Homo sapiens: one gene and its partner. The protein of the gene in region 2 purifies or fractionates together with the protein of the main gene of each other region. This does not show direct contact. Each region holds a gene or a part of one and is shown on either strand. Other genes may lie near its edges.

Region 1 (3,819 bases), on a different chromosome or scaffold from region 2:
CTAGAGAGGAGGCGGCATCGGCCATCTGCTTGGGGCCAGAGAATGAGGGGTGCCTGTGAGGAGTTGGGGAGAGGCCTAAGAGGGGTGGGCCTGGGCACATAAGGTGTTGACAAAGACCTAATTTCTTGTGCTTCCTGAAGCCTCTTCTAACCCCAGGACCCAATACCGGTACAGAGTGTCCCAAACCCCAACCCCCAACCCCCAACCCACCCCGAGTAAAGCAGGAAGGCCTGGCCTGAGCCTCTCTGCCACCCAAAGCTCCTTGCTTACCTGCGTACAAACTTGGAGGTGAACTTGCTGAAGATGCTCCCAGAGGCCCCCCGCCGGCCCTGGCTGTGGCCAGAGGGAGAGGCTGGGGTCACACCGTAGGGCAAATTCTGCTGGTCCCGCACCTGTCGGAGCTGCCCAGCATGGAAGGTGCTTCGGCTGGACACACCCCGGGGGAAGTTAGTTCGGTCTGGGGCTCCACCACTGCTGCTGATGTTGTGGGCGGATGGGGAGGCAACAGGGACACGCTGGGGGGCTGTGCTGTGGGAAGAGAAGTGGGGTTGAGGGGGACGAATTAGGGTACAGGACAGCCATCACTGGGCACCTGGACACCCTGTGGTGGGGACAGGGAGGGGGATGCTAGGGCAGAGGCAGCCATCACGAGGACACAGAAGGAAGGGTGTGACTACTGAGGACAGTGGTGAGAAGGAAGTCTCGTGGAAGTGGAAGGAGATGGTTTGGGAAGGGAGGGAGGGAGGCAAGGAAGGACCCCTGTGTGGAGTGTGGTTTAGGCTGGAGACAGCGGGCTCCCTGGGAGCCGGGCAGACTGGACCCTCAAGGCGGCAATGGGGACCAACCCTTGAGGATTGAGTCCCTGTGATGCCGACTATCCCCGGGGTCCCTAAGGAAACCCTGGAAGGTTCAGAACAAAAAGGTTTCCCTTTGGAGCCTTAGGACAGCTTCCTGCATACCTGTTCTGAGAGGGAGAACTGGAAAAGAGGGGCATTAATGCTCTTTTTTGTTCCCTCCACTTCCTGGCCGCAGGGGACAGACCCATTTCTTGTGGCTAAGATGACAAGAACACAGCAGGACCCCCAAGTGGGAAGAAGAAATTGTTGGGGCAAGGGGGTAGGGTGGGCTGAGGGCAGCAGGTGCACCAGCTGCCCCAGCACACTTGCCTGGGCCGCGGCACCTCACAGTTACTCTCCGTGGGGGGCAGCCCAGAGGCCTTGTTGGGGTGCACGGAGGCCGACATGGATTTCTGGTGCTGGCGGGGCCGGGCCGCAGAGACTGCGGCAGAAGCAGAAGCCGTGGAGGCCCGGGACCCTGGCATGGTTAGGCTAGGAAACAAAAGCAGCGGAGAGGCCCGTGTTAGGGGTGAGTGAGGGCGGGAGGCCTGGATTAGGAAGCAAGGGCAGGGGAAGGGCCAGAGCTGGGGAGCTCTGGCAGGGTAGAAGTCAGGCCTGGGCAGCAGCGGGATGCAAGTCAGAACTGAGGAATGCGGGGCTGAGAAGTGGAGGTGAGTGAGGTCGGGAAGCAGCGAGGTGGGTCAGTGCCTGGGAAGAGGAATCAGAAATGAAGGAGAGCAGACAAGGGGCCGCTGCCTCCAGGCTGCACTGGCCTCCTAAGAATTTTAAGAACAGGAGAGTTTCTTCTACAGAAAGAGTGGGGTGTTGCTGAGGGGAAACTTTCATAAACTCAGAAGAGATAGAGCCAGGAATGCAACACCAAGAAATGCGGCCGGTGAAGGCTGGGGAGCTCTGGTCTCATGGGGATGGCTGGAGTCGCCCTCTATGTGTACACCCCTCAAGGTGGGCATCTCTTGGTTCTGCCCTGAGCTGGGACCCCCAACACAAGGCCTTAGCTGCTCATGTCTAGAGGAGGGCAGCTGCCATGCCCTGGCCGTGGTCAAGAAGCGAGCATGTAGCTGAGATGGCCACGGTCAGCCCCACACTTGGCAAACTGCAAGTAGCAGTCAGAGGAAGATGGGGAGGAGGCAATGGCGTGGAATAGGGGAGGGGAAAGCTGGACTGGACACAGCCAGGATGGAACTCCAGGGAGCAGGGAGCAATGCGCTGGCAGGGACAGGAGACGGTGCTGCTGACAGACATCACCCTGTGAGACATGGCTCCTAGGGAGTGAGGCAGGCAGGGCCCGGGTCTCTCACCTGTCTTTGCCATTCTGGATGGAGGCCTGGCCGAGGCTGGCCCGCTCCAAAAGTGGGGAATTCCTGCTTCGATTTGTGCTGGTGGAGAGGACGCTGTTCTGTGGGGAATAAAGGGCAAGCGTTCTATCAGAAAGCCAAAGTGGTCTACAGCCAGGTTCTCCCCCCAGGTTCATGGAACAGGCTTCCTGTCCCTTCCACCTGAAGCAGACAGTGGTAGGTTAAGGAAAGGATTCTGCATTTACTGCTGGGAGCGAGGCTTCCTGCTATAAGCAGAAGTAGTAGCCAAAGGGAACAGAGTCTGAATTAAGAGAAGAGCTGCCTGGAGAGGGCAGGCCCCACCGCAGGAAGGAAGGAGAGAGCGGGGGGTGCGGCTCACCGTGGAGGGGGTTGGGGTGGTCTTCTTCCTCTCCAGACCGGGCAGGGGGCTGGCAGGCACCTTGGCTGTGCTGCTGGCTTTCCGCCCTGACTCCCGGTCCTCCTCAGGCCGCTTATTTTCTGCGTTGTTACTCTGAGTCTTCTTAGAGTAAGAATTAGAGGTGGGAATGGCAGGACCAGCTGCTGGGCCAGAGGGAGGATGGGAATGGGTAAGGCCAAGGGGTCCACTGAGTGCCAGCCCCACGCATGCTCATTTCCTACAGGGCTGGCCAACAACCCAGCAAGCCCCCATTCCACAGAGGCGAGGGAAGGGAAGTGGCTTGCCCATAGCCACACTACTAATAAGTGGCTGAACCAGGACTGAAACTTAGTTGTGTTACCCAAGTCCCCACAGAACCTGTAACCTCTCTGGAGAGGGGTGAGTCCCCACCTACAACTCCCAAAAGCATTTACCCTGGTCGCTGAAGCGCCGCTGCTTGGGATTGGCCGACACGCTGCGCTGTACCTTGTGGGATGGGGATGGGGCGCTGCTATTGGTCAGATCAGCTGAAGGCCGGGGTTTCAGGGTGATGGTGTCGCCTTCCAGCTGAAAGAAACAGAAAACAGCTTCAAGGGAGGGCAGAAGTCATGTGGAGATCCCTATGGATGGACACATTTACACATACCGCCCTCTCCCAACACTCAAACACCCCAGGATCATACCGGACATCCACTTGTAAGACCAATACATCCCCCCTGGAGGAGACCCTGGAGACACACATGCTCTGACACAGACACTGACAAACACAGTCTCAGAAAGGAATACATAAGCCCACACACCCAGAGACACAAACATCCGCAAGAACACATGTCCAGACTCAAGTCCACTCCCCTCAACACAGAGCAATATGGGCCTATACCAAGTGTCACCAGGTGCCTCTTAAGGATCCCACCACCAGAGGGAGAGCAGGGCAGGGAGGCTGGGAGTTCATGTGGGGATACTCAGATGATGAACAAAACCCAAATGGGCAGAAGAACAATCACAAAGTCTCCAGATCCACAGACGGGAAGACGGACACATACACACACACACACACACACACACACACACAGATACACACACCCAAACATAAAGCACTAGACAGAAGCAACAGACTCAATAGCCGGGTATGGTGGCACATGCCTGTAATCCCAGCTACTTGGGAGGCTGAGGCAGGAGAATCGCTTGAACCCGGGAGGCGGAGGTTGCAGTGAGCCAAGATCCTGCCATTGCACTCCAGCCTGGGCAACAAGAGCGAAATTCCGTCTCA
Region 2 (3,549 bases):
AACTGTTCATACTAATAAATGGATACAGCACATTTTCATGGCCTGTAATGTAGAACATACTATATAAAGTTCTCAGTTTGGGGATGACTAGGTTTCTGGAAGGAATAGAATGCTAAATCAATGGATGGCATTGGGCTGAGAAACACTGCTGCTACTAATCAGCCTTGAATGTGTAATGTGAACATGCAAAAGAGAACATGCATACACTCAAATTTGTACAATGCTATAACTGGAAGTTGAAGGACTTGAATTTTTATATTGTGCTATTGTTATGTTTTCTGTAATTGTTTATATCTAAGGAATTTTTGAGGTAATATAAAAGAAAAAGAGAATAATGAACAATGATGTCACTGGAGGGTTTTTACATTAAATTAGATCATTTTTCTTCTTATTCACAATAATAATCTTAATCTTTAAGAATTAATTATAATTTAATATTATAATTCATAATCTTTAAGAATTAATAATTATAATTTAATATTATAATTAATAATCTTTAAGAATTAATAATATAATTTAATATTATAATTAATAATCTTTAAGAATTAATAATTACAATTAATAATTAATAATAATCTTAATCTTTAAGAATTAATAATAATCCTTAATCGCAATAATAATCGCAAGGAGGAGAAGTAAGTCCCTCCTCCTTCTGTATGAACTTTTCTCCCACATGCTGCTGTATGGTTTAGTGAGAGTGAAGTTCTAAAGAACATCAATATGATTGGTGGGATAATCCAAAGACATTTTTTCAGAATCAAATGGCATGTCGAAGGTTTGTTTCTTGCATATGTATTTACTGGTCCACAGCACAAAATAAAGTGACCACATATACATAGGAAAGTTGAATTTGTACACATACAGCATCTGAAATGTATCTGATGTTCAGCATCAAGATTTCACTGAACATTGTAGAAATGTGTATCTTTTGCATGTATATTTTACATTGATTTTCTATTTATGTACATCTAGAAAGTTTTAACCCTAATAAATAGTTTTGTAATTTTGAATAATAGTGTCAGTTTATATGTGAGGGAGTAGAGACAGAGAGGTTAGCACTGGATAATAATTAGTAAGGCCAAAGGAGAAAATTTCATAGAAAATATTGTTGTTGTCATAATGAGTACAGCATGAAAGGCTTCCTCTACAAGACACTAGTCAAAGAGTTGAGAGCTGCGGTTTCTAATCTTTGTCCATTACTCCCTTACTCCCTATGAGACTGTGGACCTGTCACTTGGCCTCTCTGGTCTTCAGTTTTCTCACCAGTAAAACAAGGAACTTGAACCAAATGACCTCTAGTGTTCCCCTTGGGTTTAAATGTCTATAAATGTTCAATGACTAGAATGTATTGCGTTTTTCTTTATTCTTTTTGCTTTGAGAAAAGAGAATGTGATTTAAGAGTAATAATTTGAATACCAATTATCCACATTAAAATTGTGTCCTCTATGTGTAAGGCATAGCACATTTAGCACACATACATAAGCACACTAAGCACCTTACAAATATCCTCATTTATTCTTTACATAATCTTTTGAAATTGATTATGTAATACACACTGTTTTTGAACAATTGGTGACTTCCAGCTGTTTAAAACAAACTACAGTATGGTGCTTGAGTACTGACTTAGGAGGTCAGCATTGGTTTCACTAGGAGCTTCTCAAAGCACGCTGCCAAACATGCTCCAGTCTCATTGTCAAGGCCTTAGACCAGGCAATCATTACGGCAGTGGTTCTTCAACTTCAGCAGCAGCAAAACGATCTGGCGGGGGCTTGGTGAAACAGACTGCTGGGCTCGACCACCAGAATTTCTCATTCAGAGGGTCTGGCCTGATCACTTGCATTTCTAATCACTTCCCAGGTGATGCAGATGTTTCTGGTCCAGGGACCCCAGTTTGAGAACCACTGTATTAAAATTTCCTTCATCTCTATAGAAATGGAAAGATTTTTTATAAGTCCTCTAATTTGCTTTAAGATAAATGAGATTTCACTTAATTCTGTTGGAGAAATTGTTTTAAAAATTGTGCTAAAGAACCGAAAATCACTTTATGTTAAGGCTCTATTTATAGCAAGTGAACTTTTCATGAGTTAATAAAGGCCTACAAAAATAATTTTGACTGTGAAACTAATTAAAATCTCTGTGTTTCATTTAAAGCATAAACATATTTGAATAAAAATAGGTTAACAATAATTTGGGACATGTATTCAGTATAATTTTAAGATAATTTTACAAAATATATGTAACATTGCATTTGTTTCTGTAAAATATCTTCGGAAAAAGCCTTGTTTTCCCTAGTGTGTTATTTGTTGAATTTCTTGTTAAATGTATTTTTTCCCATTGAAAAAAATGTTTTTAATCAATGTGATCAATACAGCTATCTATATGCCCTGCTTTCACTGTAGAATTAGAAAGTGTTAATAAGGTGATCGGATGTTCTTTCTAAGGATCATATTCCACATTTAAAGAGATGGTGACTGAGAAGAGGTGGCAAGCTGAACCATCTCACTTTGAGATTGACGTATCACGTTTTATCCTCTGCCATCATTTCCTTGTTAATTGTTTTTCTTTGGGTGATTGGAAGAATCTATGGCTTCCTTTTCTCTGTTCTTAAAGATATCAAGACTCTGCCCTTTTGTGACTGGAAGTAGATTTTAAATGTCCCTAATGTTTATATGCTCACTTAAACTCAATACATGGAATTTACTGGGGCATTTAACTTGTTCATGAAAATAGAGTGAGTCATTGAAAAATCAAATCTTTAGTTATGATTAAGTTATTGTTTTTACCTAAACTGGTTCTACCAAACTCACTCTTTAAAGCAGAATCTGGAATTGGCAAGTCTGATGTAATGCTGATCTTACACATATTAGATTAAATGACCTAATAGAACCAGCTACTGCGCCCTTTCTTATCAGAGTAGAAAAACCCATTCTCTGGGTTTACTCCCAGGAAATACATACTCAATGCTCACTCAGACGTTTTATATCATGACGAAAAATCAAGAAAGGGGTGAAGTGGAGCTAGGGAAGGGTTCAATTACGGTGTAAAGAAAGAAGGCTGCCTATTCATGACAATGGAAACTTTGTCTTCCTCTCTTTGTGTTGGAATTTTTATTTTTATTTTTATTTTTATTTTATTTTATTTTATTTTTTAGACAAGGTCTCCTTGTCTCACCCAAGCTGGAGTGCAGTGGTGCAATGATCGCCTGACCTACCTCCACCTTCCAAGAGTAACAGTGCTCCTGCTCCAATGTGACCTTACAAATCTTACATAGATTTCTCTGTGGTCAACTCTAATCAGCAACACTCAGAGACACTCAGTGAAGAAAGCCCTGGGAAACACTATTTAGTTTAGCCCAGGGGAAATTACAAGGCCATGTCACCTTGAAACTGGAACATGAGGAGAGGTGAGGATGGAGCTGCTGCAGCCATGTTGTTACCATAAAGGGAAAGCCCAGAGCTGCTGGGCAGCTTTGTGGAGCCCAGGGATGAAACTAATATAATCAAATATAGGTAGGGGAACTAACAAAACAAGAACAAAACACAAGTTTGA

Evidence for each region.
Region 1: the proteins of MACC1 (region 2) and MARK2 purify together in Homo sapiens (affinity purification with mass spectrometry; one large-scale study listed by BioGRID and IntAct). This does not show direct contact.

The regions. Positions count from the first base shown.
Region 1 is NC_000011.10:63,901,495-63,905,313, reverse strand, and holds part of MARK2 (serine/threonine-protein kinase MARK2), read right to left. Parts: intron 3,117-3,819; coding exon 2,984-3,116; intron 2,714-2,983; coding exon 2,532-2,713; intron 2,254-2,531; coding exon 2,156-2,253; intron 1,329-2,155; coding exon 1,167-1,328; intron 529-1,166; coding exon 271-528; intron 1-270. UniProt on the Homo sapiens protein: Serine/threonine-protein kinase. Involved in cell polarity and microtubule dynamics regulation. Phosphorylates CRTC2/TORC2, DCX, HDAC7, KIF13B, MAP2, MAP4 and RAB11FIP2. Phosphorylates the microtubule-associated protein MAPT/TAU.
Region 2 is NC_000007.14:20,133,858-20,137,406, reverse strand, and holds the end of MACC1 (metastasis-associated in colon cancer protein 1), read left to right. Parts: 3' UTR 1-2,752; downstream 2,753-3,549. UniProt on the Homo sapiens protein: Acts as a transcription activator for MET and as a key regulator of HGF-MET signaling. Promotes cell motility, proliferation and hepatocyte growth factor (HGF)-dependent scattering in vitro and tumor growth and metastasis in vivo.